Regions from separate parts of the Homo sapiens genome. Here regions 1, 3, 4, 5 and 6 are each linked to region 2. The links come from fine-mapping of genetic effects on gene expression. A gene starts in region 2. Each other region holds a variant in brackets. All regions are shown on one strand. Distances are between the middles of the regions. Region 1 holds the start of LMO1 (LIM domain only 1). Region 2 holds the start of SCUBE2 (signal peptide, CUB domain and EGF like domain containing 2). Region 3 overlaps SCUBE2 (signal peptide, CUB domain and EGF like domain containing 2). Region 4 overlaps SCUBE2 (signal peptide, CUB domain and EGF like domain containing 2). Region 5 has its middle 34 kb from the start of DENND2B. Region 6 overlaps SCUBE2 (signal peptide, CUB domain and EGF like domain containing 2).

Region 1 (5,105 bases), 830 kb before region 2:
CTAATGCTCCTGAAAGGCTCTCTCCTGCTCCCTGTAATTGGGCATCAGTAGTTAATGCAGTATTGACTGCATTACACGCTCCCGTGCCTCCCCTCGCTAATGCCAATTGCATCACCTTGTACAGTCACTGGCTTGCTTAGCCAATAGCCGTTAAAAGCAATCCAAATCATGAATCATATGGGAAACTTTTAGCAAGACACCGCCATCCAAGGAGACAATTTACAGTTGAGTTAATCTGGGTACATTAGCGAGACATGGATTCCGGACGACAGACCAATTTATGTTGTTTCCCTGTCCCCCCTTAGTGCTGCTCTGTGTGAGCAAATGAATGGAAGAGCAGGGAACAGAGAGAAGCACCTGCTTCTTCACCCAAGGCTCGGGTGTGTGTGTGGGGTTGGGGGGCGGGTTACCCATCTTTACAGACACTCTGCCTGGCTAAGTTTGGGCAGGAAGGGGAAGCGGCTGTATGTGCAGCTCAGGATGTGATGCCTCATTCCCAGCAGAAAGGAGGGCTGCCGCTGGGGCTGGTCATGGTAGATGCAGATGGTAACCCTCCCGCTCCCCTGCTTCTAGGCACTGGGCAAGTGCACAATTTGGTCCCCACCCTGCCAGACTCACAAGGCCTTTACCAGGCCTCAGCAGGCAGCAGTGTCCACTTGGCTCCGCCTTCCTGCTGATGGGCTGGGGTCTCTGGCATGGAACAGCATCAGGGCCTGCCTCCCTCTCCAGGGTTGGGACGGTCATGAGCACACTCTGCCAGGAGAGGCCCCTGGGATTCTCTGTGGTCTAGAACATGAGTGTCTATCCTAGGAAATCCTACTGGTGGCCCAGCAAGGGCTGGTTGGTACCCAAGCATAGCCATGCGCCGGCTCTGGTGGATTAACTGAGTCGGCTGTGGAATTTGTGCTCCTAGCAGTCATTAACAATTGAAGACTCCGCTGTCTGGTCCTCCTCAGTCCAGCTTCACTCTCTTGGGCATTTTTACTTATTAAAAATGCCCTAGGAATCATGTCTGGTGTTTAGTTCCACAACCCGCCTGCTGCTTCCTGTGGTCACCCCCACCTTCCTGCTGGGCCTTTGCAAAGGCCGTTTATACCCAGCCCTGCCCTTCTCCTGTGTGCACCTGAGAGCATCCCAGCATCCCCAGCTGGATGCCCCAGCCTCCTCTCCTGCCCAGTCCCCCACAGACCAAAGCTCTCACTGTTCTTGGGCCCTCTCAGACTCTCTGCTGTCTGCTCCTACTCAAAGGCCTCTTCTCGAACAGCCCAGGGGCTCATTTGACTTGGGTAGCATTCAGAGCTGTAGCTCTCCTTGCTCCCTTGGGATTTTAACCCTCCCAAAAAGCTCACCACCTGGTGCCAGCCCAAGCCGCAGGTGCCAGGGGAAGAAGGGCTGTTTCTCCGGGAAAGTTGGAGCTCAGTTCCATTTCGCTGACAGGCAGACCCAGCAGCATGTAGAAAGCCCGGACCCTGAGTTCCAGTAAAGTGGAGATGGCTAGGCCAAGAGCAAGCATCCAAATGAAAGCAATTAATCTTAAAACCCGAAGTTTAACCGTTTGCAAAACAGATCTTTCCGTCTCTGTGGTGACCCTTCACTGCTCGACCTAATGGATTACTTTATTAATAATGCACTGTGCTTAAAAGCAAAAAAAAATTTTTTTTTTCTGACGATTCAATACTTCAGAAAGTCTCTTAAACCCGTTGCTACGGCAAAACGATTGATATTTTATTATCTTTCAGAAGTGCAACATGAAAGCCCTGCAGCCCAGCAGAGCGGGAGCTTTGGTCCTCGGCAGCTGGCAGACCCGACTTCAACCAGAGGAGCCCCAGCCTCTCCAGACAAGATGCTGTCAGGTGGAGAAAAGGCGTTGGGGGTGGTTAATAGCAGCCCTGAGTCCCTGCTGCAGCCAGACAAAAGGTGCCGTATGCAGGGAACGCACCCTTTGGGGGAGCCGGGGGGTGGGGGAATGCTGCCACCCAGTTCAGATAGCCACCTGCTGAGAGGGCAGAAGCGTTCAAGAAGAAGATAGGTGGTTGGTTTGGAGGAGCAGATGAGTGCATCCAGAACCTTTCTCCCTCCCCCAATTGAAGATGCCATCTTCAAGGTTTCCTGGAACTATGGGAGGCCAGACTCCTCTTAATAGGGAGTGGAGTGCAGATGCATGAGCAGAAACGTCGCTTTTGAAAGACAGCTATGGGCTGGGTAGGACAAGAATAGGTGGCTGC[T/G]TAGGACACCAGTGGATGTGCTTGTGCTGTAATGGACCCCAGAGCCCAGCAGCTCCATGGTAGTGGGCACCATATTGTTTAGGCTGGACAGGCTGGGGATGGAGGGGCATCTGGAGCTCTCTTCCACAGATCTAGCAGAAACCAGAAGAAACATCTGCCCAGGGTGCTTGAGGTACACTGCAATTTGGAGGCAGGGAGCTGGCTAAAATGACCTCCAGAAATCCATTCTCACTCAAGGCTCATCTGAAACCCTTTGTATTATCTCAGAGCCAGAGGCATCATGTGGTGCCTGGGCAGAGCAAGATCCTGGGTGCAGGTAGGGGGTGTCATCTTGTTGGCATGAGACCAATCTCCCTGGCCTGAGGCCTCTCACGTACAGAGCCCGAGTCTTCTGGATTCCTGGCTTGGGCCTGGGGAGCCAAGTATGCCAAATAACCTCTGCTAAAGATGAACCTTGCATGCTCCCCATAGTGACAGTATCTCCAGGTACCAAGGAAGTACCCTCTCCCCTGGCTTCTCCAAGCCCTTCATTTTTACCAAGAGGGAAGGTGAACATGGGGAGTTCGTGATGAAAGGCACCAAATCAAGGTCTCTTCCCTCCCTGTCTGGCCCAACCCCAGACCCCTTCTTCTCCTTTTCATTCTATATGAAGTTCTCCGATGGCCTACATGGGGCTCCAGGGAAGGGGTCCGTGAATAGAGAAGACATATTGAAGATGATGTCCCACCCCAGCTAGCCCAGAAGCACTGAGGTTCCCCCCATCCTCTCTCTTCCTACACACATACTGAGAGCCACAGGTCCTCCTAGATGCCACCCCCAGGCCAGATACTTCAAATTCCCCCTCCCTGCTGGATGTCTCAGAAGGCGGTAGCAGCCTGGGGGCATCGGCACCTGGCAGCGGCAATGCGAACATCCTGTGTGACCCTGAGCAAGTCACTTAGCTTTGCATTTTCACCAACTGGCCACATCAATAACAACGCTGCCCCAGGGACAGAGGGCTCAGGCCCAGCAGAGACTCCTGAACGGAAGGGCAGAGGATGGCCACTACAGTCACTTTAAGAGGATTCCCGCTGACTCAAAGCAAACCTACCCTTTCGGTACCTCACCAATGGCAGAACGCCGGCGGCAGCGTGGGCACCAACAGTCACATACAAATGCCCCTGCAACACCAACACACAGGCCTCACCTACAGGGCAGGAGGTCCTGGGACAGCCAAGGTACTGCCTCTCTCCTTACCCTGGGGACTCATCTTAGGGCACCCACTTGGCTTTCCCCCCAAGGGGGCTGGGATCCCCAGCCTTCTAGGACACTTAACTGCAGGGCACTCCCTGCCAGTAAGGCTTTGGGGTCTATGGGACCACCTGCTAGTGGCTTCCAGCAGCCATGGGCTCCTCTGTTCCGACCTTTCCCGTGCCCTGCAGTTTTCTAGGGCGCACTGAGGCTCGACCACGGAAGGTCCGTGCCACTCTCGCAGGCCGCTCCCGCACAAGTGCTACCGGCCGGCGGCGGGACACTTTCTTCCTCTGGGCCAAACTCCCGCCTCCGCGCTCAGAGAGACAGGGAGCTAGCGGGCCGGCACAAGAGGCGGCTCTCTTTCTCACCGAGTCACGCTCATGCAGATGTCCCCCGGAGGGTCCAACCCGCCTTCCCCTCGCCTGCCGGGCACCCTGGCGCTCGCGCCGTCCTCCCGCGCTCCCGCTTGCCCCGAGCTCTGGAGCCCGATTCTCCCCGAAGCCGCTGATTTGCTCGGCGCTCAGCGCCTCTCGGGTTACGCGGCGGCTGGCGCGAGGGTGATGGCTGCGGTGAGAGCAGCAGCCTCAGACACGAAATGCTCAGAGCGAACCTCCGCGGCGCGGAGATCGCAAGGGAGCCCCAGCCTCCGCGCGGCCCCGCGGCGCAGCACACGGCCAGTGCACAGCTCCTCGGCTCGCGGCCGGGACCCGGGGGGCGTGCGGCCCCGGGCGCGTGCAGCCCGGGGCTCGACCTCCTCCCCCCGCAAGTTCCGCCCGGCTGTCCCCCGGTACTTCCCCCCGCCCCAGCCCCGGCCCCCAGCGCGCCGCCCGCCCCGCAATCCCCGCACAGCCCAGCAGGTGTGCGCCCGTGTCCCCGCGTGTGTGTGCCTGCGCGCCGCGGCAGGGGGCGAGGGGGTGAGGGGCGTCGAGACCCCGGCCCGCCACCTACCGTCCTCCTTGTCCAGCACCATCATCTCGGGCGCTCCGTGTCCAGCCGCAGCTAGGCTCGGCCGGGAGAAGGGCGCCGACTCGGGGCGCGCTTTGGAGGGGCGGCCGGTCTTCGGGCAGCTAGCGGGCTCTAATTACCCGCTTGTCCGGCTCTTAACCTAGATTGCACTCAGCTAGAATTACATTCAGGAGTGAAGCACTTCGCAGATACAAAAGCAGTCTCACCTACTTTTGTGCCTCAGAATTGGAAGGAACTACGAACTGCAATTTAGAGAGAGAGGGAGAGGGAGAGAGAAGGGGGAAAAGAGGATCAGAGCCGTTTCTTTGATTCTCACCTTCTAAATGGCTCAATTTGCCCAGTATAATCTGTCTTAATGTAATTGCATTTGATAGCTCATAACCCTGTCTCTGGCAACGACACAGCTTTCAGCCTCATAAAGTGTTTTCCCCTCGGATTTAATCTGAATCTCAATCTAAAATTATATTCAAAGAGATGGGGGAATCTCGTGGCCGTCTCCCGCTGCCTTTCTCCCTCAATGTATGAGGTTTGCACTCCTGCTACTGCATAAATGCACACATTTCCTGAGGCCTCCACCCTCCCGGGTTAATGGGGAGTGGAGACGCACGGCTGTCCGGCTCCGCAGCGCCACCTGGAGGCTTCTAGGTCCTAGCTCGGTGAGCGTCTTTGCTCCGATCCCAG
Region 2 (5,105 bases):
GTCAGCTCCAATGTGTCATGATTTCCATCTCCAGGAACAGCCTCGAGTGTCCAGTCTCTGGCCAGCTATGAACTTCACAGTTCATGACTCTAGTCCAGATTATAAAATGGCAGAGTCCAAACCACAGGTTCTCAGACCTGCAGCTCTATGGGCTAAAATGCCCCTCTGCACACATCTCTCCAGAGTGAACCTGTAACTCCAAACGAGGAAGGTCCTTGGTGTACTCTGAAGCTTGGCACGTCACAATGCCAAACATTGTGGCCAAAGCCATAAACAGGATGGAGCCTCCTGAGCTGGTAGGGGAGGGCAGGACTCTCTAGCACTCAGACTTCAGGGCAAAGGTACAAACCGCCCCAGGGAGGTGCAGGATCAGCCCTGCTCTGGCAGGCATGGCTCTCCTGATCAGCATGGATGTTTACTTTCTGCCCCAAAACTGAGTGGGACCCAAAGATACTAACACATCTCTTTTCTTTTCCAGAAGCTAGACAAAAGGACATTTCAGAGCCAGATAAAACTGTGTGAGCAGCTCTGGGGAAGACCTAATGTTTCCAGTCCAAGATCTGAAATATATTTCAGAGAGCAGGTGATGTGATTCAGGGGCTGGGGGAAAGGGAGAGGAGGGGCAGTACTTTTACCAACATAAGTGGCCACTGCAAGAGCTAAGGAGGTAGGAGCTTCCCTACAGTCCCCCCACATGGTCCCCAAGGCACTTACCCTCACACTGCCTGCCTTCCCCTTGGTAGCCAGGCTTGCAGGAGCACTTGTAGGAGGTGGGTGTGTTCTGACACAGGGCGTCGGCATGGCAGTCATCTAGCCCTTGGGCACACTCATCTACATCTGCAAAAGAGCACAGCTGACACCTGGTACAGGCTCCCAGGCCATGTGTGATCTGGCCTCGGCCCTGTCTGGCATCATCCTCACCAGCCCACCCCGCTTCACTCCTCACAAGCTACAGCTGCTTGGGATCCCTGGGATAAACCAAACTGTTTCTGGGTCCCTGTTTCCAGGAACAGCCCGGACACTCTACGTGAAATTACCCCCACCATCACCTACTGGCCTTCAGGACTTAGCTCAAATCCACCTCCTCCAGGAAGCCTGCCATGACCCCCATTGTAGCTGCCCTCACCAAGTGCTCGCATATGTATGGCTTTGCATGCACACATCAGGCAGGGTTGTCACTGTTTTCCTTCCTCTCTCTCCACTAGACAATGTCTTGACAACAGACTGCGTCTGTGTCCCTTATGCCAAGCCAGCGCAGTACCTGGCATGTGAGTAGGCAATAGTACCTACATGCCCGCTAAAGGAGGAAAGGACCAAACGGACAGACAAGCTCTGAACACCAAGCAGCTGTCTGTCAGCTTTCTCGGAGCTCAGAGCAAGCTTGTCCAACACAGCCCGTGGGCTACGTGCAGCCCAGGACAGTTTTGAATGCGGCCCAATGCAAATTCATAAACTTTCTTAAAACATTATGAGATTTTTTTTTTATTTATTTATTTATTTTTTTTTTTTGCTCATCAGCTGTCGTTTGTGTTGGTATATTTTATGTGTGGCCCAATTCTTCTTCTTCCACTGTGGCCCAGGTAAGCCAAAAGATTGCACCCCGCTGGTTTAGAGTATTTATGGGAAGTCTGCCCCGGGATCGGAGCAGATGTCATCCAGGGCTCTCAGATGCTGCGAAGCGGGGATGGTGTCCCCATGGCCGGCCCCCTGCACTCCCACCCCTGCCCATCCTCTCAACCTGGAAACCCGCCTTGGCAGAAGTATTTCCTGGGTTGACACTACTCCAGGATATTAATTAAAAACAAAAGCATTTTGAAAGTATTGCAAGTCCAGTAAGCACAGCACGTCCAGAGTCCTCTCTGGAAACCAAAGTTCTCTGCTGAAAACCTAGGCTTGTTGCTGCTTCAGGGTAATTCCCAGATCGGAACAGGCGCTGTTCCGCTGACAGAAAAGTCTCTGGAGCCCACCCCGAAGCCATCAGCAGAACTTGCCGGCCCCCAAAGAAAGAAACGGCAAAGCTGCCACCGCCTCGCGGATGTGCCCGGCCCGGCCCTCAGTTTCCCCGCCTACGCTGAGGCGCGGGACCCCAAGGCCAGGGTCCGCACCCTCCTGCCTGCTCGCCGGCGACGGTCTGACTAGCAGGCGCTCTGGAGGCATCCGGACCGGGGCGGGAACCGTCAGCAGCTCCGGGTCCGAGGCCGGGCCGAAGGACTCAGGGCCCCAGCGGTCGTGGCGCCTTGGCCCGGCCGGCGGGTGAGGTCCCGGGGGGAGCAGAGGCCCCCGCGGAGCTGCAGCCGCCAGCCCCGAGCCCCGCGCGCCCGGCTCTGGACTCCGCCGGGGACCTAAACACTCTTCCTGGCCCTGCCTGCTGTGCCAGGTGCGCCCCCGCGGCCGGACACTCACCCTCCTGCGGCCCCGCGGCACGGCCCCGACCCGGCGGGACGGCCCCCGCCAGCAGCAGCAGTGGCGGCAGCAGCAGCAGCAGCAGCAGCACCGCCCAGGCCGCCCCGGGACGGTTGCGGCCCGCGACCCCCATGGATGGCTCAGCGGTTGCGGGCAGAGGCGGCGGAGTGCGGGCGGTGGCGGCGGCGGCGCGGGGAGGTGTGCGCGGACGCCCTGCCCGCTGCCGCTGCCACCCCCGGCCCGGCCCCGCCCGCCCCCCGAGCCCCGGCCTCATTTTCACACGGTCCCTCCCGGGCCGGGGCGGGAAGCGCAGGCGGGAGCAGTGCCGCCCCGCCCGGCCTCCTCCCGTCCCCTCCCCGGCCTCGGGTGGAGGGGGCGCGGCCGCGGTGGCCCGAGCGCGGCTGTCAGCCTGGCGGGGCGGCAGCACCGTGCCTCGCGCCCCGCGCAGCCCTGGCACCCAGCCCGCTGCCCCCCGCATCCCCGCTCCGCTCCAACGCTCGGAGCCCTCGGTGCCGCGCCTGTTCCAGTGTGTTACAACTCGACCCAGGCCCTCATGTGAGGACAAACAGCCCTTCTAGATTGAAATATTCGGGGTCAGGGCGCCCAGAAAGTGTTCCGTATAGTCCCCAAACCCCAAAGCCATCTTGGGGCTTTCCACGTGGGAGGTGGGAGGTGGGAGTGGAAGGAATTGGGGGTGACTTCCAATTCGGGAAAACAGCTGTTTGAATGGAGAAGGTGACCCTGGCTTCTCTGCCCACCCCAGCACACCCTCTGCACCCTTCTCCACACTGCCCACCCCAGGCCCTCTGGGATCCTCCATCCCACAGCCCTGAGGGCACTGGTCCACTTGTCCCACTGTGGGGCACACTGGGCCTAGAATCCCTGCAAGCTACTTATGTATATCTCAGGGCAGCCTAAGGGGAAGGGGGCTAGAGGTCAAAGGTGAGCCACCAGAGACAACAGACAGCAGCCCCGACTTTGCCGGAGTACAGGTGGCATTTACGATCACCTGAACTCATAAACATCAGGTCTGGCTAGCTTCAAACACAGGCAGGGCCTAGCACCTAGCCTTCCATGAAAGACAGTCCTTGCAAGGGAACAGGTACACAGGGTCTTCCCATATCACACTTGACACGGATGGCTGGAGCCCAATACACCCACCATCACTCCAGGAACAAATATAGTAACAATTTCCGGACGCAACCAAACATCACACTTAGGGATAGTAATGTTCTTCACTGAGCTTCTCCGTATTTATTCAATTTTCTCCTGCGATTATATACATACACATATGTATATATGCAGGCACACGCACGCGCGCACACACACACACACCATTCCTTTGGAGATCAGAAAAAAAATAGATGTCACCAAAAAATCCCCACCTAGCTCATGCACAAAAACTCTTATGTCTTCTTGGGGCCTATCCACAGCCCAGAGCTCCCAGCCTCTGCACCCTCAGTACCCACTGTCTGCCACCCCAGCCCCCGAACATGCCCACGGGGGCCTGCCTCTTTGGGCTGTGGCTAGTGCAGCTGCTTGATGGAGCTATCTGAGAAAATAACTTTTCTGTAGTTGTTTTTCTTTTGACCCTTTCAGTGAAGGCAGGCAGGTTGCGTCCCTCTTTCTGTCTGCGCCTCCCTCCCACTCCCTTTTGTTTGGTGCTGAGAGAGACACTCAGCTATTTCTGGTCATAAGGGTGGTTTTTACACATTTGTAAATCTTCAGTTAGTGAAACGTTCTCTCCACCTTTGTCTTTGTGTCCTTAATGGTAGCCATAAATTACTGCCTTCTTTTCTCTCCACTGCATCAGGCTTCATTGCTTTTGAAATGATCAAAGTTATTTCTTTTAAAATCCAACTAGAAACTGCCCATTGTGTGGCACAGACCTCTTTAGCTCCAGTTAAAGCATATAAATACATAAAGCTGCCCATTAAACTCTAGGGGGAGCCTCCTGCAGCGCCCTTGTGCCTGGCAAAGAAATCACACATGTGCTATTCTTCCCCTTTACCTTTCCCTAACTTGATCTTTCAGTAAGGACATAAATTAATAATGACAAGAATCAGCGCCTTTTTGCCTAAGACTGTCAGCTTTTGTCATGTTTCCCAGAAAAGTCCACCACTGGCACAGATCTCAAAAAATGTTCTGTATCCTATTTTGTTTGCGCTGACATCCTTACAAACGTGCTTTCAGCTGTTGGCTCCCAGACTCCTGGGCAACCTTTTTGACACTTGAGATTAAAGTCAATATGGCTTACAACCGGGAATTTCCACAGGGGGAAGCTCCAGGGGAAAACTGTGTCCAAATGTCAGTGTTTTTGGTGTCAGGAGGAACTTGGTTGGCTCTACTCTGGCTGCAGGCTGCCCTCTATTCTGCAGCTGAGGTCCCCACAAACTTCTCAGAAAGGCCTCAGACACCGTCCCTGGACTGAGGCTAAAGCTCCCTCTTCCTCTCCCTGTCTCCTCTCCACAGGCTGAGAGGCCATGAACCAGGCCTCAGGGGTGCGAAGAGGCAGTCCAGCCAGCCCAGTCACACTGGTGTGGGCCTTTGAGGAGGCTGAAGAAAGCCTGGTAGTGGCCGGCCATGCGTGCCCCTGAACTACACATAAGCAGGTGCCACTCTGCACTCATGGGACACCATTCAGTGCCCACCTTTCTTGACTCCCCCCCCGCCCCCAGCAGCCTCTGACATGTGGACTACTT
Region 3 (5,105 bases), 50 kb before region 2:
TTTTGTAGAAATAGGGTCTCCTGGGCTCAAGTGGTCCTCTGTCTCGGCATCCGAAAGTGAGCCACTGTACCCAGCCTGATTTATGTTTTTAAGAGATGTCCTGGCTGCTGTGTGGAGAACAGATGGAGGCCAGGCAAGGCTGAGGAGAACAATTCAGAGCCTGGTACAACAGACTGAGCTAGAGATGACGGTGGCTTGAAACAGAGCAGTAATAATAACGGAGGAGGAGAAAACTGGTCAGATAAAGGAAATTACCTGAAGGCAGAGCTGACAGGATTTGCACACGGACTGGATGAGGAACGCAACAGAAAGGGAGAGGTCAAGATGACTCAGGCTTTCCACTTGAGCAACTGGGTGAGGCGAGGTGCCCCTTACTGAGATGCTGGTTTGATTTGATTTGAAGCTTGAGAGGATAAGAAGCTTTGTTTGGAAACACTGAGTTTGAGATGCCAGTTGGCCATCCAAGTGCGGACACTAGGAAGGCACGGGTTCTACTGTTGGTCTCTGAGGCGGAATACTACACCTCGGGGGTTGACAAGATGATCCACCGGGTGGGAGCACGTTTCTACACCCATGCCTACGAATTTTCACCTAAAATAAGAAACAAACGAAGCTCCTCTGGTTTAGAATATGGTGTAAGAGCAGCCTCCCAGCCAGTCTCCATCTCTGTGAGGCACAAGACACATGTGAGGAGCCAGGGTCGCCAAGAAAAGAGAAGCACTGGCACCCACAACTCGGGCGCAGGGCACTGACTGACTCTCGCCTCTCAATACATAGAGAATAGTTACAGCTTAGCTATGCCTGGGTAATGAGATGTCCTGACCTATATGATCGTGTTTTTAACTAAACTAACCATCACAAAATAGAAAGCAGCTTTGATGGATTCCCGGAAAGAACACCCGACTGAAGGGCGTAAACGTGACGCGAGCCCATGCGCACCACAGGAGTGTCCGTGGGCGCATCTTCTGCTCCTAGCACAGCAGCCACGCGCGTCCGCACCACAGGAGAGGGCCCGTGGGTGCATCTTCTGCTCCTAGCACAGCAGCCACCCGTGTCCACAGTGGAGCGGAGGTTTCCCATCCAAGACCCCCAGTGGGTGCCTGGAACCTCGGAGAGTACCACACCCTATATACACTAGGGGTTTTCCTATGCGTGCTTATTCATGATAAAGTTTCATTTATAAATTAGGCACAGCAAGAGATTAACAATAATAATAAAATAAAACAATTATCACAACATATTATAATAAAAAGTTATGTGAATGTGGTCTCTCTCTCAAAGTATCTTATAGTACCGTACTCACCCTTCTTGTGATCTGTCAATCTGATAACTGAGATGACTACTATGTGACTAACATGGGGGAGGGTATACACCGTGGGTACACAGGAGAAAGGGAGGATTCATATCCCAGGCAGGATGGGGAGGGTACACAGCGTGGGTACGCAGGAGAAAGGGAGGATTCATATCCCAGGCAGGATGGGGAGGGTACACAGCATGGGTACGTAGGAGAAAGGGAGGATTCATATCCCAGGCAGGATGGGGAGGGTATACACCGTGGGTACGCAGGAGAAAGGGAGGATTCATATCCCAGGCAGGATGGGGAGGGTACACAGTGTGGGTACGCAGGAGAAAGGGAGGATTCATATTCCAGGCAGGATGGGGAGGGTATACACCGTGGGTACGCAGCATAAAGGGAGGATTCATATCCCAGGCAGGATGGAGCAGGACAACACGAGATTTCATCACACCACTCTGAAGAGTGGGCAATTTAAAACTTACAAATTGTTTATTTCTGGAATTTTCCATTTGATATTCTTGGACCATGGTTGACCCAGGTAACTGAAACCACAGAAAGCAAAACTGCCTATAAGGAGGCACTAGTGTATTACCTCTTTGTCAAACTACATCATGAGACAGAAACAGTTACGATTTAATCTGGTCTGTCAAGAGTTCACCTAAAGCACTAGCAATAGTCAAAAAGACTATAGGACAAATGGATTTGCAACCACCACTATCAATAATGAACTTCGCCCAATTGTAAAGATTCTACCTTAAGATGCTAGCCAGTTATTTTTAAATTTGTTTAATCTTTATCTTGTTCTGTCTTTTGTGATGAACATAGTGTACTAGCCAATAGTGTAAGTATATAGTTTATAAATAAGTAAACATTCATATATATTTTACTTAGAGGGAGA[G/A]AGAATGTGTGTGTGTGCATTCTTAAATGTTCAGCATCTCTGGGACAAAGGAGCTGGAGAGGGCAGTTTCAGAATCGCCAGCATGTGGTGGTATTTAAAGCTATGGCACTGGGTAAGGTCACCAAGGAGAGTGTGAAGACAGAGGAAGGGACGAAGGATTCAACCCTAGGATAATCAGAAAGTAGGGGAGGAACCGGAACCAGCATTGAAAATGAAAAGGGAGCAGCCAGTGAGGTATGGAGAAGCAGAAGTGTGTTGTGTCTGAAACCCACAGGAAGAAAGTGTTTCCAGGAGAGGGAGTGATCAGCAGAGAGGATGCCTCATGAGGAGTGAGGAAAGGCAACTGGATTCGGCATCACAGAGGTGGTTAGGAATCTTGGAAAATGTTTCTGTGGAGAGGTTAGGCATGAAAATCAGACTGAAGAGAAATGGGAGGTAAGGAGGCAAAGACAGTATGACTACGGCTCCTTCAAAGAGCTTCGTTCTACACAGAATGGGGGACACAGAAATGAGGCAGTAGCTATAGAGATGCATGAAGTCAATGGAGGGTTTGTTTGGTTTTTAAGACAGGAGATGGGTTTGTGTGATGTTGGAAATGATCTAGCAGAGGAGAAGAATTCTGAGATGGGAGGGGTTGATGGGGACAGCATGGGCAACATTCTTAAGAAGCTGAGAGAGAACAGGCTCCAGCTTGAGTGCAAGATAGAGGGGGGCCTTAGAGGCATGGGCTGCCCATCCATTTTAACAGGAGGCAGGTCTGAGCCTGTGTGGACAGACTCGGGATTAGGCAAGTTAGGCTGGACATGAAGAGAAGAAGTTGTTTCGCTAGACTCCCAGACACCCATGGACACCTCTGCCTAGAAATCTTGTTGCCCAAGGAGCACTTCTCTCCCTGGCCTCTGGCTTTACTCCTCTTACAGAAGCATCTCTATTTTCCCAGGCACCAAGGCTCCAAATCACAGCTCTCCCTGGCTTCTCTCCTCACTGCCCTGTCACTCAGCGGCAGCATCCTACAGCTGTGTCCCTTCTCTCTATCCCCTATTCTTCGTCCCCATGGCATGAATGTCCCTTAGATCCTCACCGTCTCTTATTTGGATTGCCGCAGTAACCTTCCAAGATTCCCCTGGCTTTCTGTCCCTCCCTGCCTCCACTCTTTCCATTCTACCATCAGATGCACCTTTCTAAACTCTTTTTCTGATTGCTTCACTCCCTGGCTCAAAAACCTCCTTGCCTTGCCTTCCTGCACTCCTCTCAGTTTCTCTGACTCAATATTCAGGCTTTAGCCTCCTTTTATGTATCTTTTTCATCCTTTCTCATGCTCTCTCAAGAGCCTATTTTTTTCCTGCTTCTCCTATAAATCTCTTCTGATTATTTCTTCCCCAGTGATCACATTCATTTCATCATTCAACCAACCCCCTGGCGTTTTCTCAGTGCCTCCTGCATATGAAACAGGGCATGGTGAGATGAGGGATGTATGGGAAGCAAGTGCCAGGATCACAGGCCACATCAGAATCCTCTGAGCTCAGCCCACCTCTTTCCCCTTCTCAGTCCCCAATCCATGTCATCCCCAAATGCTGCTCATTTTCCCTCTTAAATATTTCTCTAACCCATTGCTGTTTCTCTATCTAGGACCTGCATGTTCTCAGTATCTCATAGGCAACACATTCAAAAGCCCCCAGATTGGTCTTTCTGCCTCTAATTCTGCTCCCTCCAGTAAAGTCAGAGAGATCTTTCTAGAATACACATATGACCTGGACACTTCCCGAGTAAATCCTCCAATGGCAGCATGTCACCTAGAGATAAAGTTGAGGCTCCTTAGCAACATATCCAAGGTTGCTGCAGAGGAACAGCAGTAAGCTGTTACAAAAGGAATTAAATGTTCCTAGTCTCTCAAGAACCCAGGCACTAAAATACTTCCCAGTTTGCCAGTTGTCTGGATTGTTTCTTCTAAAAATCTCAGCAAGTTTTCAAAACAACCAAATACAGTATATATAATACATACATACATACATACATATATACACACACATGCATACACACACATATATATTATCCAGTGTATTTCTTAAATAATTTATCTTTTAGCTGGTATTATGAAAGTACAATAGCTAGACATCCATGTCATATAGTTAATTTTCTTTAGACATGAAGAACTTTATGAAGTACTACAGAGCTTAAGAAATTTGTTCCTTGGACCCTATAATCATTTTTTTTTTTTGCCATCTTGTTAAAATTGATCACAGATGGTACAAAGGTCACTTGGAGAGCAGGCTGTCCCCAAAGTCCCCAAATGCCAAATTAATGAAACTTTACTATATAAAATAATGATAAGAAAGAAAATATACAATTGGTCAGAAGTGATTATTTTCTCTGGTGTAAATTGGGACTTTAAAATTTATTTTTTAATGCTATACAAAGGACAAACAGTTCAATGCAAAAATAGGCAAAGAATATAGATGTTTTCAGAAGAAGGAATCCAAATGACCACAGGCATAAGACAGCATGCTTAGTCTTACTAATAAAGAAAACCAAGTTAAAATGACTATTTTTTTTTTTTTTTGCTTACCAGATTTGCAAAAATGAAAAGGATCAATGATAAATAATCCATGTTAGCAAAGATGTAGGATGCTTCCAACGTTGGAAGCGACATGCATAGGCATGATCTTTTGGGAAAGTAATTTGGCAGTATCTATTAAAGTTTTAAATATGCAAGTTCTTTGAGTCGGCCATTGTACTTTTGCAAGTCTATCCTTCAGAAATATTGGCCATGTGTACAAAGAATGATATTCATTGAGCACTATTTGCCATATAAAAATTAGCAATAACTTCTATGTTCACCAGTAGGGGTAGGGCTAATCAATACTGGTGTCTTCAAACAAATACAGCCTGGGAAGCTGTAAAAGAAATGAG
Region 4 (5,105 bases), 70 kb before region 2:
TTCTTCTTGCCATTTAGTTTTCAATTGAAATGTAATTTCCGCATAGAGGCCATCTATAATCCCCAATCCTAAAGTAGCCACACAATCATCTGTTACAGTAACCTATTTTAATTTTCAACATAGCTCTTACCACTAGCTGCTACTTTTCATGTTGATTTATCTGTTCTTTGTCTGTCTCTTCCCTCTAAAATGTAAGCTTCATGAGGGCAGGGACCTTGTCTGTCTTATCGCCGCATCCCCAGGGCCTAGAGTACCAGGCAGAAGTTTGATAAATATTGATGTAGCAGGTAGAAATAGTATCTCCAGATAGCCAGCCCCCAACAGGATCACAGCATCTCTTAAGGTAGTTGAGGGAATAGAGAGGAAGCTCCTCTTTATACCTCCTGTGCGTCAGTGGTTTGTGCGTGTACCAGCAACACAGCTCTGGTGCATGGGGCTGCCCCGTGGAGGATGCTCCTCCATAGTGACCGGGTTTATGCAGCCTCCTTCCAACCCCCAGAGTATTCCCATCCCTAGCCTTCTTGTGAAATCAGCAAGACAGGATCACACAGTCATGAGCACAAAGTTGCTAACATGCCTGGACAGAATGGTGCAGCTCAGCTCATCTCACCTTCACATCAGTGCGGTCACTAACTCGGGTTTATGTGACATTCGAATTTTCATCTTATGGTTAGACTCAGAAATATAGGCCAAGCTCCAGTATAACAAAGTCCAAGTGCTTGTTTTAATGCTATTTTTTTTTTAATGATGATGTTCAAACTTTTGAAGAGAAATCTGAAAATGAATATTTAGGGCCCATCCAAATAAAGAAGTTTGATTAGGACTTTTTAAGAATCAATGTTATTAACAGGTTAAAAAAAGCAACACTGAGATGAAAAGCAAGTTTAACCATAATGAAGTTCTCTTTGTTTTCTTCAAAAATGCTTGTTAAACATTTTTTTAGTACTTTGGTATGGAGAATTGGCTGTGCATAGAATTGTTATTGAAATAACAAAACACTATAGTTGTAGGTAGTCCATCCATTAGGGAAGTGGTGGCTTGTTTGATTGGATTCCTTTTTATTCACTGTAATGAGATTTTTGCTTGGGGATTTAAATGTTTAAAGATTCAATAACACTGAAAATTCAAGTTCAAGAAATGATCGTGAGGCCCTGCTGGCCTGACCCAAAGTGAGATGATCGTGTGGCATTCAGGGGGTGTTTCTGGCAGTGCTGTTACTGTTAGAGAATGAGACCACCCTTCAAGGGGCTGCTCATGTCCACGGAGCAGAGTCCGTCTCTCACATTTGAGACTGGGGAAGGAAGGCATACATGACAGGCTGGGCCTCACCACACCCACCTGGACCTCAGATCCCTTGTGATGGGAAGCCCACTTGGGGAGTAGAACCCTTGGCAATACCGACTCAGGGTTGGTGAAATCGCCTTTTCATGACAATTGATGATTCTCATCCACTGAGGAAATTACATTTCACCTGAACTCCCCAGTCCCTCAGGCAATGGCCAGCAGAGTGTCAGAGGGCACAGCTGAAGGTGCGAGAGTCAGCATAGTGCATTTGCTGCAGGGTGGAAGCTTGCAACGAGGAAGGCTGGCAATAAATGTACATTATTATGTCTCCAGAAGTGCTTAGTTTTTATTTATTTCTAATTCTTTCTGCTTTTTTTTTTCACGAGCACTGCTTAGAACTCAAGTTCCTGGGATCAAACTTGTATCACACAGGCTGGAGAAGGCTGTGGAGAAACTGAGTCCTCCCAGGTCTCAAGGTGGGTGGAGGGAGCCTGCAGGGGTCTCCTTCCCTCCCCTCTTGCCTGTTCTGCCTGGTCAGAGCCTGCACACGAGTGCAGAGGGCTCCCTTAGAGAGGGCCGGGCTAGAGGAAGCTGAAGTTTCAGAATAAGCAGCTTATTCTGTGGCCTCCTTTCCACTACAGACTCCTTGAGGAGGAGTAAGACCCCAGAAGGACAGGTGAGTCTCACCTAGGCTGACCAAAGTCCAGCTCAGCCAGCCCGTGATCTATCCAAGACATCCGCCCACAGCAGTGAGAAGCTGATGCCACTCAAAGCCATTCTCAGTCTACATCCACGATGCTGGGAAAGAAAAACCAAGTTCAATTTACCAAAATATCTGTATTATCTATAAAAATTGAACTCTAATGAGTCACTGATACGGGAGGCAGCAATACCCGACTGTGCTGACATGCAGAAGGAAGACAGCTCTGTCCCACCAACCCTATAGCAGAACATTTGTATTGAGTGGCACGTGGGCTGAGTCATTTGTAAGGTCTCAAAAACCTGGACACTTTGGAACGTAGCAATCGGATGAACGATCTTGGAAACATCTCTCGGGACTCCTGGGCTGTGTACTTGAAATAGTTCTGGGGATGGGCCAGGACATCAAACAGAGCCTTGATAAGTTTCTTATCCTAAAAAGAACAGAATTTTTGTTACTGGGCCAAAATATTTAAATATGCTGACATTTTGCCCATGGAACTATAATGACCCAGTATTAGGCCGTAGCTTGCTTAGCTGAAAAACACTTGCAAAAATTGTTTCCTCTGATTTTTATCTTCTTTCCAGTTTTTATTTTTCCTAATTAGTTTTAAGAAGTATGAATTACTTTTATAAATAAAACTTTAATATGTAAAATCCTGTTTT[C/CT]TTTTTCCCAACCAGATGAATGCAACACTGGGATTTGGGAGTATTTGTAGGATTAGTGATACCACAAGTGTTTATTGCTAATTATTTATAAGTATTTAAACTTTGGTGAATTTTAGGCTTGAAGTATACATAAAGAGCCAAGGATCCTCAACTATTTGGAATTAATAGAAAAACATTATTTGCTGTTGGTTTGGATTTATAAGCAAATTTCTCCCTGCCCCTCCACAAGTTTCCAAATTGAAAAATACAACTTCACTTGACAACACTAAAGACAGCAACCTGATTTTTTTAAAAATTAAGTCTGGTGAAGGTATAAAACTGACCTTGGCCCAGGACAGGCTCCGTGTCTGAAAGGTGGCAACAAGGAGCAGGAGGAGAAGCCTTCTCCAACAGTACTCGGGAAGCTCTGTGGATAACTGCCATGTCCACCTGAGCCAGGCACTCACCTTAAGTATTTCCTGATGGTTCTCAGATGCATAGAGCCTGCCATCTCGAACTATGTCTTCAATGAGTTCCTGGTAGTCCTCTGTTGGAATAAAGAACATGTTTTGCATTCTTATGATTTAGTTGCTTCCAAACTCACTCTTTCACTTTTTGATAAGGTTCTGAGAAATGCCCCTTCTGTGGCTGCTATCACTTACCATTCTGCTTACTGAGAAGACAGTCAGAAGAAAACTTCCACAGACTCCCACCACCACCTCTCTTCACCTACCAGCATCTGCACCCATCTTCCCCGTCCCCTCTTCCCTCAGACGAGCCTCTGTGCATCCAGTCCAGGCTCATCCCTCCACTTAGCATGCCAGGTCCATCTTCTCTCCCCAAATCAAAAGCATTGTTCTAGTAATTCTGCTCTTTCTTTCCTACATGATACATTTTTCTCTCTATTCGTCTCTCCCACCAGCATGCAAAAATGCTGTATGTCTCTGACTTTAAAAATCCCTCCCTTGACCTCATTTCTCCCTCCAGCTTCCATCTCACTTACCTGCTCCCTTTTGCAGCAAAAATCCTTAAAAAAATTGTCAGCACCCACTGTCTCTAATTCTTTTCCTTTCTTTCTCTCTTAAACCCAGTCCAATCAGCTTTGGCCCCCATCACTCCTCCAAAACTGCTTGGTGAGACCAGCAATGACCTTCATGTTGTTAAATCCCAACGGCCAGTTCTTGGTCTTCATCCTCCTTGATGCATCAGTAGCTTTTGACCTGGCTGGTCACTCCTCCTCCTTGATCCAGTTCTTCACTGAGCTTCCAGGACACCATGCTCTTTGGTTTTCCTCCTACCTTACCGGTTACTTCTCTGAGGCTTCTTTGCTTTTCTTCTTCTCTCTGACCTATTACCAAAGGAGGGTCCCAGGGCTTAGTCCTTGGTCTTCTCTTCTCTGTCTATACTCACTTCCTGTTGAGCTCATCAGGCTCTCCTTTCCCTCTCACCTCCCCACCTCCCGCTTTTTTCTCTATTCTTGTATTATGTAAAACAATCAAGCTTCTTATCCACCAAGAAAGACTCTTCTCTCCTTTATTTGAATGGGGCTGGAGGGTGGAGAATTTGGCTGGTCGGGGAGGAAGAAAACTGTGTGTGTTCTCTCATTAATATTTTTTGTCCTGATATACACATTAAATGCAGTGCATGCTGTACTTCTCCAAATGCCAATCTTCCCCCTTTGAAGTCTAGCTTACTTCCTATAGGCATCATTCAAATTAAGCATATGCAAAGCACAATCTTTTCCAAATTCCAGACACAGAAAAAATGCCTCTTTGTATGCATATCATGTGCGACAAAGCCAAACACATTATGAGAACATCATTGAAATTGTGTGAGAGGAACTCTTGAAAAGTTTCTCTCAGTTAAGGGATGGCAAATGGAAAGTAATGGTATAATAGTCACAATTACTAATTCGATATGTTTACAATAGCATTGGTACTCCATTAGTGTGGTGTCTTTCTTTTATTTTAGTGAATATAAAATATGAGAATACATTTTCTTTTCATCTTGAATTCCTCTGCGGCAGTATCTCTCCTCTTTTTGTTGATGGGACTTACCATTAAGAATGTCGGTTGCTGTGCTGCGTTCTGGTGTAATAGAAAACTAGACAGCTGTTTGCCACTCCACCAAATGCTTCCCGACTGCTATCGTTTAAAAAAAATATTTCTTCTGCTTTTAAGAACTACTGTGTTTCCTTACTTGCTCCAACTCATTAGAAACGCAGGAAAGTTACAGGTAAGAATCCAGGCTCTGGAGTCCCACAGTCCTGGTTCAAACCTTGCTTTGCAACCTTGCCATGCTGGGACCTTAGGTCAGTTCCTTAAATCTCTAAGCCTGAATGGCCTCATCTATAAAATCAGGAAATAATCAAGTCTACTTTATGGAGTGATTGTGAGGAAAGCACCATGTAAAAGTCACTTCAGCATGTACCTGGCAGTCAGCAATGCTCAATGTGTGTTAGCCCCAGCTACAGTTCT
Region 5 (5,105 bases), 250 kb before region 2:
CAGAGTATCCCCCATTCTCCACGATTTCAGCACAAGGCGGCATCACAAAGTAGTAGAAAGAAATCTGCAATCAAATGAACCAAAGTTCAAATCCTGGATCTTCAGTGATTTACATAATTTCTCTGAGTCATGATTTCCTCCTCTCTGAGACAATCCGTTCACGAAAGTATCAAGTTGTGAACGGCACATAGTAGGTCCCCGGTGCTGACTCATTACTTCCTTGACAGGTTTCTCTCCTGTCCTCCCAAAAAAGATAGGCTTTTTAGAGACTTTTTTAAAAACAGGGAGCTGGAAATACTGATATTAAGAAGACATTGTTCCACAAGGAATCAAAGTCGTGCAGTGTCCCTTACCTTGCTGTGCTGGTCACATTCCGATGACTGCCCTCAATTTCTTTCCAGCCTCTCTTAGGAAAGGCCCAGAACATCTATTTAATGGTATAAACCTCCATTTCTCCCTCTCAAGAGTCTGGAGTTATGAATTATTAGGTGGCTCAGGGTTCTCTAAGGGTAAGGCTTTCAGTGTCATCCTGGAAAATATTAAAATGTGGAAAAACCACTCATCCCACCACCTCGTGTTTCTGTGTGGTATCGACTCGACCCTTTATGGTTTCCTTTTGGAGTGCATTCAATCTGCCCTGCGCAAACACCACATCAGGTCTCTATCACTGTGCTAAACAAATGTTCCAAATGGGAAAAAAATTGTCATAAATATTTTTTGGGACTGCTCACAGTCTTATTTCACTGCACTTATTTCAAGTCTTTCACTTATTTAAAGTCTTATTTCACTTATTTCATGATGGAGACATCATGAAAGACAAAGAATTCCCTGTAATTCCCTGTACCAGAAAAGTGTCACACGTGCTACCTTTCCTGAGACCAAAGAGTTTATACAGTTAAATTCTTTACAGTAAGGGTGATTTCGTAAATGCATACATTCAGTTTGATTTAATGTTTAGGACTCTGTAAAGGCTTCTCATGTAAGCAAATTCAAAAATCAGGACAAAAATCCTGTACTGGCCTAAGGATCTCAAATTTTGGCTCCAAAATTAGAGTTGCTCTTCTTTTCTCTCTTTTTTTTTTGAAATGCAGTCTCACTCTGTCACCCAGGCTGGAGTGCAGTGGCGCGATCTCGGCTCACTGCAACATCCGCCTCCCGGGTTCAAGCAATTCTCCTGCCTCAGCCTCCTGAGGGGCTGGGATTACAGGCAAGTGCCACCACGCCTGGCTAATTTTTGTATTTTTTGTAGAGACGGGGTTTCACCATGTTGGTCTCGAACTCCTGACCTCAGGTGATTCGCCCACCTCGGCCTCCCAAAGTGCAGGGATTACAGGCGCGAGCCACCGTGCCCGGCCGGAGTCACTCGTCTTAATAACAAGCTAAAGGCCCTAATTGAGCATGTGGCCAATGTGGAACCTTAGGCTGCAGCACTAAGCCCAATCAGCCCATTGCTACTAAGTACAAAACCTGCAAGAGGAACAGACTCTCAGTGGGCCTCAATTTCTTCCTCTAGCAGAATGTAAATAAGAATCTCTGCATTTGTAAAAATGTCCAGAAGATTACTAAGATGGAAAACAGTCACTGGGAAGGAAGCACCCCTTCAGGGGTCATTCTTGGCCTCACTTGCTCATGCCTGGCCCTTGGCAACAGCTACCTCCACAGATCTCCAGCCCCACCACCGCCTCTCCTTTCCAAGCCCTCCTCTCATACGGAATACACAAATCCTGTCACAAATAATACGCTGTCTGGCTGCCGTAAATCACCATCCTGCTCATGCCACCCCTGTGCTTTCCCCCAAGGTTGATCCTGATATTCTCTACCTCCAGACCCTTTGCACACACCACTCCCTCTTCCCAGAATGGCTTCCCTCCTCTGTTTGCTAAGCCAACTCCAACAGTCCCTCAAGATGCCGCTCCCACGGCACCTCCTTTGGTTGCTTTCTCTGGCCATGGGCTTCCCTTGCATCTTCTCCTCAACATTCTTTGCTTTCCTCTGGTCAAACATCTGTATCATACTCCATTGTAAATGTCTGTTTATCTTATGTGCCCTAAAAGAATGTTATATTACCCTCCTTACATTTAATATTTAAATTTTTGCATCACAACCAGTAGTAAAGACGTACTTTCTGCCATATTCTAAATATTGGCATTTTATAAATATTTACAGGCCTGGCACAGTGGTGCATGCCTGTAATCCCAGCACTTGAGGAGGCTGAGGTGGGAGAATGGCTTGAGCTCAGGAGTTCAAGACCAGCCTAGGCAACATAGTGAAACCTCAGCTCCACAAAAAAATCGAAAAGTTAGCCAAGTGTGGTGGTGCATGCCTACAGTCCCAGCTACTTGGGAGGCTAGGTGG[G/A]AGGATGGCTTGAGCCCGGGAGATCGAGGCTGCAGTGAGCCATGATTGCACCACTGTATTCCAGCCTGGGTGACAGAGCAGAACTCTGTCTCGACAAAAATGTTTTATTAAAAATAAATAAATATTTACATTTTTAAATTAAATACAACATTACTCTCTTAAATGAATCTAAATGATCCAATGGACTCTAAATGCCATAGTGGATCATCTATTTAAAAGAACATACATTTTATACTATGCCTTTTTGTTAACTCTTACTTCCTTTTATTTCGTTTTCAGAATTTTATCCTAATATTTATGCTTCAAAATCTTTTACTGATCAACCTATACTTCTCTGCAATATATATATTAGTATTATACATATATACATATAAATGCATAAATTTTTAAATTCTGCTATGATTATAACCTCAATTTTTTATTCTATTTATTTTATTTTTTTTTAGAGACAGGGTCTTGCTGTATCACCCAAGCTGGAGTGCAGTGGCATAATCATAGCTCACTGCAGCCTCAAACTCCTGAGCTCAAGCAATCCTCCTGCTTCAGCCTCCCAAGCAGCTAGAACTACAGATGCCCACCACATTGCTCAGCTAATTCTTTCTATTTTTTATTTTTGTAGGAACAGAGTCTTGCTTTGTTGCCCAGGCTGGTTTCGAATTACTGGCCTCAAGTGATCCTCCTGCCTCGGCTTTCCAAAGTGTTCAGATTACAGGTGTGAGCCACCACATCCAGGCTATAACTTGTAAATGTTAAAAAAAAAATTCTTCTTCTGGATTGGGTTTTCATTATCTTTATTGTTTGAATATGCAAATGATCAAAACATAATTGGTTTAGAAATTGGTACTATTATTAAACATAAAAAGTAAAATTTTATTCAAAATGCATTAATTTTTCATTTTTATAGTGGTAAGCACCAAGAAACCTTGTTCACATAAATAACTAAACAGAAGTGACAGTCTACAGCCATACTACCCTGAATGTGCCATCTCGTCTGATCTCAAAAGCTAAGCAGGGTCAGGCCCCGTTAGTACTTGAATGGGAGAAGTAAAATAAATTTTGCTATAGCAATATCAGTATCTTTAGAATCACAAGTCAAAATCATGTCATGACCTATAATCAAAAATTATTTTTAATTATCTACCAACTGACAATGCCTTCAATTTTGTTGAAAGCAAGAATTGGAAACCATCTGACTTAGAAAAGGATTTGCTACTCACAGTCATTCACTTTCCTAATAATAGTCCTAATTGTTCCTTTGCTTGTTAATCTGGAGGCTTTCACACATCAGGCACACAAACAGCAAGACTCCAGATTAATAATGACTATGTCTTCCTTTTGTAAAGTGGGAGAAGAGTGATTGAGAAAGGAAACACCTTGAGTGCAACTGAATTCTCAGACAGATCAGCCTTTGGAAAGGGGACATAGAAAGTCAAGGATCTAGAAAATATACCCTGTCTGAAGACTACTAGCTTATCTGCCTCTCCCACCAAAACAGTGGCATTATCAAAATTAACATTAAATTATGTTTATTCGTGGATAATTACTGTTATATTTTAACAGAAAGAGACTGAAGACAGCCTAAATGTGCTCAATAAAGGTCTGATTAAATAAATTACAGAGTGTCTAGAAACCAAAAATACACGGTTTCTCTTCAGGACTGAATCAAGTCCCTTCAGAATCAGGGCCCACACTTTATTCCCACAGCCTCAGCTCCTACAAGCCCTTCGAAGGTCCTCATGTGCATCATTCCCCACTGCAAGTAATGGTTTCTAGATGGGAAACCATGGTCCACAGAGCAACACAGACAGGGACGTGCCAGAGGACATAAGGACAGTAAGACCTAAAGTGTACTGCTGAGGCTTGTTATGAACACTCATGGAATTGCAACCTGGAAGCCTATGTCTGGGGAAAGGGAGAGGGGACAGTGTCTATGCTAAGAGAACAAGTAGCAAGGAGCCAGAAGAAGGCTGAGTGTGGTATGAAGGAATAAATACTCAAGAAGCTGGTAAGGCTGGTGACATTGGAAGGAAGATCCCCCAACAGGCTGCTGGCCCTAGAGGTCAGGGCGCTATCTATCCTTGGAAGAAGACAAGTGGAGGACAGTATCATCCGAACCAAAGCAGCGCCCAGGCTGAAGGGCCCACTGGGCAGACACTCCAAGAGAAGGCTCATGGTCATCACAATGGGGAGGAGGGGAGAAGAGGAGTGAGCCAAGACGCGGCTGCTTGCGGACAGGGCAGAACCTACAGATGGGAACAAATGAACCTGGTTTCATAAAACAGCTTCCCTCCTCTGTGCCCCAGAGTAGTCCTCCCAGTTAAAGTCCCCTTTCTCGTTCTCTTCACCAAGTCAAATCCTGCCAACCTGCCAAGGGCCAAGATGATGCCCCTTGTTCTCCATGCAGCCTCCTCAAACACTTCTGCTTATAGTCAGTTCTTCTACCTCTAAACCCTCATCATTCTCTGTTTATACCAGAGGCGGCCTGCAATATTTCTAAACCGCTCCATGATCCATTTGTATTTTGATATTAATCCTTAGCTCTTTGCTGTAGGTGTTTGATGCCTCTCTGAAGATAAGGCTTGTGACTTAGACATGTTCCTGTCCCACAGGGTGACCCCTCAATGCTTTACTGTGCGGGACACCTACTTGCTTACAGTTCCAATGGACACACACTGTCTCCTGCCACTCATCCAAATGTCTATCTCTTTCACAAAATTAAAGGTTCATTATATACATGTGGATTCTGAATT
Region 6 (5,105 bases), 38 kb before region 2:
CATGGTGAAACCCCATCTCTACTAAAAATACAAAAATTAGCCGGGCATGGTGGCACATGCCTGTAATCCCAGCTACTCGGGAGGCTGAGGCAGGAGAATTGCTTGAACCCAGGAGGCAGAGGTTGCAGTGAGCTGAGATTGCACCACTGCACTCTAGCCTAGGCAACAGAGTGAATGAGACTCCATTTCAAAAAAAACAAAAAATTATCTATCTATCTATCTATCTATCTATCTATCTATCTATCTATCTACCTACCTACCTATCTATCTATCTATCTATCTACCTATCTATCTATCTAAAACTGAGGGTCAAAAATAGCCTCCACGGTGAAATAGAACATGAAGTCATTTTTGTGCCTTCCTGAGAAAAAAAGGCCAGAATCCCCCAGTTCAAATCTGGATAAGCCCGTTTGGCGAAACGGTGAAGGGCAGATTCTCCTAAACAAGCCCGTCGTGGGAGGACAGGGCTGAGGGAGCTGTTGTTCCAGACACAGATGGCACTCACTAAACATGGCTAGGCTCTGAGGTCTGAGAGGGAGTGAGGGTCCCACTGTGAGAGCCTGATGTGCAAAATTCTGTTCTCCTCCCAGGGTCAGTCAGTCTTAACCATCCGGTAGGATCTGGAGTCAATGCCCTACAGCTCTTTTAAGTTGTGGTGAGAACTTGAGCAAGTTACTTAATCTCCCTAAGCTTCAGTGTCCTCATCTGTAAAACAGGCATAATTATAGTACCTATATTACCAGGCTGTTGTAAGGATAAAATGAGATAATGCATTTAAAAAAAGGAAAATGTTTAGCTCCTTGCCTGGTACGTAGTAATAACTGCATAGCCATTAGCTATTTGCTTGCCCCACCTTGGGGTGGCCCAAATCACCAAGGAACTGTCACTGAGGGATTTGGCGAAACAGACCATGATGTATGCCCTGGCTGAGTCCAAACGTGCATTGAAAGGGGCAGTGAAGGATAGTGCTTGAGACTCTGGACCCAGACTGCCTGGGTTCAAATCCCAGCTCCCCTATTTCTTATCTAAACCACTTTGAGTAAGTTATTTCACCTCTCTGAGCCTCAGTTTCTTCATCTGGTTAATGAGAATAATAGTAAAATTTCCTCAGAGGGTTGTAGTATGGCTTAAGTCAGTTAATTCGTGTACTATGGTAGCTGGCATATTTGAATTGCTCAGTCAACACATACAAGCTGTACTGTCTTGCTTTGAGTCTCTAGCTTTGCTCATATATGTAATATGAACATCAGGATGTAATATGAACCTCATTCAGGTGTTCCAATGACATAATGACAAAGGCGTCTATATCCGGGAGGACACAGCCTCCTAAAAACCTTGGATTTCATTCTTCATCTTTTGACAAACAGGAAAGGGTTTGGGCCCCTTTCTCGGCACAGAATCCCTGCTGCCCCTGCTTTGCCTATTTCTATCCACACCATGTGCTCCAGGCACATTCCCTGGGCCTTTGAGGTGCTCTGGAGTACAGCCTGCTGGTCCTGGGGTTCTGTGGGCCTCTGCCCAGGGTGATGACCCACCAGGGCTGACCACAGCCTCCTGACACACAGTGGCCACACAGTAAGTATCTGTTACATGGGAGAGTCACATTCCGGGCACCAGGACTGCAGGCAACAACACCCTGGAACATGCTCACAGCATCAAGGAAATTAACAGAAAAAAAACAAAGCCAATGTCCAAGAACAGCACCCCGTGAATGAAGCCCCTTGAACACAGTGAGCCCCCAGAGAGAACACGCAGATTTGGTAATTACCCCCAAAAGCAGAGTCATTTGATTTTTGTTGTTTGTTCCTGAGAGGAGAGGAAGAGCCACAGGTGACAGAGTAGGCCCCTTGCAGTCCTGACAGACAGAATGTCAATTGTCAAATGCATAAGCAAGGTCACAGGCTATCCTGGTAGCAGCTAAACTGTCCCCCCACCCCACTCCACATGGGCCACTAGAAAAATGCCCAGCATATGGGGTCTCGAAGCATGGACCTCTCAAAGCACGGTGGTCGGGGCATCTGGCGGAGGACCTGGAAGCCCTTTGAGGGAATCTAACACCTGGAGGCCAGAGAGGCCTGGCCCCAGTGTGAGGACCTGCCCCGGGAACTGGGCCCCACTCACCTGAAGAGAGGTGAATGCCAGAGTGACATCTGAGGAAGCACCCGTCTCCTCCACCACTCTTACCGCAGTGCAGGGACACACGGGGTGACACACTTGTGGGCAGGAGCCCCTTCACTTCTAGACAGGACAAAACAGACACTTACAGAAAGAGAAGGACATTTCCAAGTGTGACAAGGATGGTTGAGTCCCATGCACCAAAGGCCCCAAGAAAAGAAGGTAGAGCTCATGCCCAGCACAGAACATAGATGCTAGGCCTTATTCCCACCAAGGGAAAGGAGCCCCTGATATGCCATTTCTTCATGCAGAAAAGCAACCAGGAAAACAGAAGTGAGTTCCAACCTACACAGAAGCACAGAAGGAAACACCAAAGATCC[G/T]GCAAAGTATCTCCTGTTTTTGAACTATTTAAAGAACAGTTGCTGCAGCTGGTGGGGAAGTCAGTGGAGGGACGGTCAGGTGGGATGTGGGAGCACGCAGAGCTGCACTGCCTCTGGGCCAGTGGCCAGCCTGCTGTCTGAGTCTGTGCCTCGGTTCCCCTTACCCACACAGTCTTTTTTATTCCAGTGGAGCTTGTACCCAGGGTGGCACTGGCATTCATAGCTGCCCACTGTGTTCACACAGACCTGCTGACAGCCTCCGTTGTTGATGCTGCACTCATTGGTGTCTGTGGAACAAAATACTCTCCTGTCATAGCAGCCTGTCACTGAATGGGCTGACATGGTCCCTCCCTTGAGGAAGGAGCAGCAGGGGAGTCACAAGGTTGAAACTCACTAACCAAAGGAAGACACTGAATGCCTTTAGCATGAGCGCTCGGCACCAGCTGACTGCACACCCCACTCCCCACCCAGCAAATTTCCTGGCAGGAGGCTCAATAGGGCCTTCTCAAGCTCCACTCTTTTTTTTTTTTTTTTTTTTTTTGAGATGGAATTTTGCTCTTGTCACTCAGGCTGGAGTGCAGTGGCACCATCTCAGCTCACTGCAACCTCCGTCTCCCAGCTTCAAGCAATTCTCCTGCCTCAGCCTCCCAAGTAGCTGGGATTACGGGCATGTGCCAACACGCCTGGCTAATTTTTGCATTTTTAGTAGAGATGGGGTTTCACCATGTTGGCCAGGCTGGTCTGGAACTCCTGGCCTCAGGTGATCCACCTGCCTTGGCCTCCCAAAGTGCTGGGATTACAGGTGTGAGCCACCACACCCAGACTCAAGCTCCATTCTTGACCAATCCATTCCTCCATTAGCAACACTCAGAAGGATCCGCACTCTACTTTCAGATGTCCAAACTCAGACACTGCACAGACTTCTATTTTAAAACTCTACCATCCTTCTGAGCTGCCTAGCAAGGGAGGCAGACAGAACTGGGACTCCCTGCTTAACCATTTACACAGTTGAGGCACAGAGAAAGGGAAGTGACTACACTAATTCCCATCAACCTGAGACTGAGTCCAGATCAAAAGGTAGCTCCACCTAAACCCAGACATACATCCATACTCAGGGTACATTTCCTCGAGGTTTCCTGATGGACTGGGAAGAGTAGTATGTCTTTGGCCATGCCAAGGATGTGTTGAAAGGGAGAAGGGAGATAACTGTCAGTAGCAAAGCACTAGTGTATATATATATATATATATATATATTTTTTTTTTTTTTTTTTTTTTTTTTTCAGGTGGAGTTTCGCTCTTATTGCCCAGGCTGGAGTGCAATGGCACAACCTCGGCTCACTGCAACCTCCACCTCCCGGGTTCAAGCAATTTTCCTGCCTCAGCTCCCAAGTAGCTGGGATTACAGGCATGCGCCACCACGCCCGGCTAATCTTGTATTTTTAGTAGAGACAGGGTTTCTCCATGTTGGTTAGGCTGGTCTCGAACTCCCGACCTCAGGTGATCCGCCCGCCTTGGCCTCCCAAAGTTCTGGGATTAGAGCCGTAAGCCACCACGCCCAGCATATCCAATCTTCTAAAGCACAAGACTCAGGACTGGTCAGGAAGTATTTAAGCCAGTGGTTCCCAAATCCTATAGATCCTCAGGAAGATGACCTTGGAAGTCCTAGACATTCTGAATTGGAATCTGAACCTGTATTCTCAAAGATTGCTGGGTGAATCTGATGGCTGGGGGAGTGGAGTGGGAGTTAGTTGGTAACAAATCCAGTTTATGGCATAGCCTGCTTGACCATGAGGTTATGAGACATGAGAACATTTTGCAAAATGGGCACAGAGTGGAGAGAGAAACTTCATAGTTCTGCTTCCAGCTCAAAGACCTAGTTGTGGGACTCAAACCAAGGCTTTGCAGCCAGTTCCTATGCATAGCAGGGCTGTGGAATTGGTGGGTGCCCCCCAAGCCTCTCTGAGGACTGTGACTTTACTATCTGCTGAGATGTTCCAATAGATAGGTTATCAGCTCCTGAGATACCCTTCCACTCTCTGAATACAGCCGCAAGTCAATCAAGTCGATAGAGAATTCACAGCTGGAAGAGCTCAGTTCTTCTCTCTGCTCCATTTCACACTCGGTGTGTTAAAGGGATACATGTGGGGAGATTTCCTTTAGCAGATCCTGCTCTCAAGTTGATGGACTCACCGCTATTGCTCAGGGACTGCAATGTACCTTTCATACCCCAATGTAGGAAAGCAAACCTCAGGGGTAGGCCCTGCTCCCCTCCAGGCCCAGCCTCATTCCCCTCCCAACTTGACAGGGGCAGTCTGCTCACCTCCACAGTGGGTGAAGCCATACAGGGTGTACCCTCGGTTGCAAGCACAAGCAAATGTGCCAGGGTGGTTGATGCAGCTGTGGTCACAGGTCCTATCCAAAGAGCACTCATCCACATCTGTAATGGTCAAAGGGAGAGGGGAGCTGAAACCCACTCTGAGGGATGAGTGAAGAATAGGTTTATGATAAATACCAGTTGCTGACCAACACCAAAAACAATACACACAGAGTAAAAAACATTATCTATCCATTTTCCTCACTCACTTGTGTTAAAGAAAGTGTGGAGCAGCC

The links. PIP is the estimated chance that this variant, and not a neighbour inherited with it, causes the effect.
Region 1: its variant is fine-mapped to the expression of SCUBE2 in uterus (GTEx, PIP 0.95).
Region 3: its variant is fine-mapped to the expression of SCUBE2 in lung (TOPMed, PIP 0.95).
Region 4: its variant is fine-mapped to the expression of SCUBE2 in transverse colon (GTEx, PIP 0.94).
Region 5: its variant is fine-mapped to the expression of SCUBE2 in blood mononuclear cells (TOPMed, PIP above 0.99).
Region 6: its variant is fine-mapped to the expression of SCUBE2 in tibial artery (GTEx, PIP 0.95).

Annotation. Positions count from the first base shown.
Region 1 is chr11:8,258,932-8,264,036 of GRCh38, forward strand. LMO1 (LIM domain only 1) reads right to left here and starts at 4,947. Exons shown (of 4, transcript NM_002315.3): 1 at 4,407-4,947. The coding sequence starts at 4,431. RefSeq lists enhancers at 1,401-1,902, 2,833-3,372 and a silencer at 4,069-4,158. The variant T/G (reference allele first, on the strand shown) is at 2,226.
Region 2 is chr11:9,088,993-9,094,097 of GRCh38, forward strand. SCUBE2 (signal peptide, CUB domain and EGF like domain containing 2) reads right to left here and starts at 2,607. Exons shown (of 23, transcript NM_001367977.2): 1 at 2,404-2,607; 2 at 715-837. The coding sequence starts at 2,536. MIR5691 (microRNA 5691) reads right to left here and starts at 1,387; the gene lies at 1,320-1,387.
Region 3 is chr11:9,039,063-9,044,167 of GRCh38, forward strand. The region is part of intron 16 of SCUBE2 (signal peptide, CUB domain and EGF like domain containing 2); the gene reads right to left. The region is part of intron 1 of NRIP3-DT (NRIP3 divergent transcript); the gene reads left to right. Among named protein-coding and RNA genes, the nearest start is that of NRIP3-DT, 38 kb to the left of the region's middle. RefSeq lists a silencer at 184-233. The variant G/A (reference allele first, on the strand shown) is at 2,196.
Region 4 is chr11:9,018,781-9,023,885 of GRCh38, forward strand. SCUBE2 (signal peptide, CUB domain and EGF like domain containing 2) reads right to left here. Exons shown (of 23, transcript NM_001367977.2): 22 at 3,096-3,175; 23 at 696-2,417. The coding sequence ends at 2,265. The region is part of intron 1 of NRIP3-DT (NRIP3 divergent transcript); the gene reads left to right. Among named protein-coding and RNA genes, the nearest start is that of NRIP3-DT, 17 kb to the left of the region's middle. The variant C/CT (reference allele first, on the strand shown) is at 2,650.
Region 5 is chr11:8,841,953-8,847,057 of GRCh38, forward strand. It overlaps a transcript of DENND2B not described here and the pseudogene RNA5SP330. Among named protein-coding and RNA genes, the nearest start is that of DENND2B, 34 kb to the left of the region's middle. The variant G/A (reference allele first, on the strand shown) is at 2,356.
Region 6 is chr11:9,050,978-9,056,082 of GRCh38, forward strand. SCUBE2 (signal peptide, CUB domain and EGF like domain containing 2) reads right to left here. Exons shown (of 23, transcript NM_001367977.2): 10 at 4,816-4,932; 11 at 2,660-2,782; 12 at 2,122-2,238; 13 at 1,769-1,855. All of the region lies in intron 1 of NRIP3-DT (NRIP3 divergent transcript), which reads left to right. Among named protein-coding and RNA genes, the nearest start is that of MIR5691, 37 kb to the right of the region's middle. The variant G/T (reference allele first, on the strand shown) is at 2,496.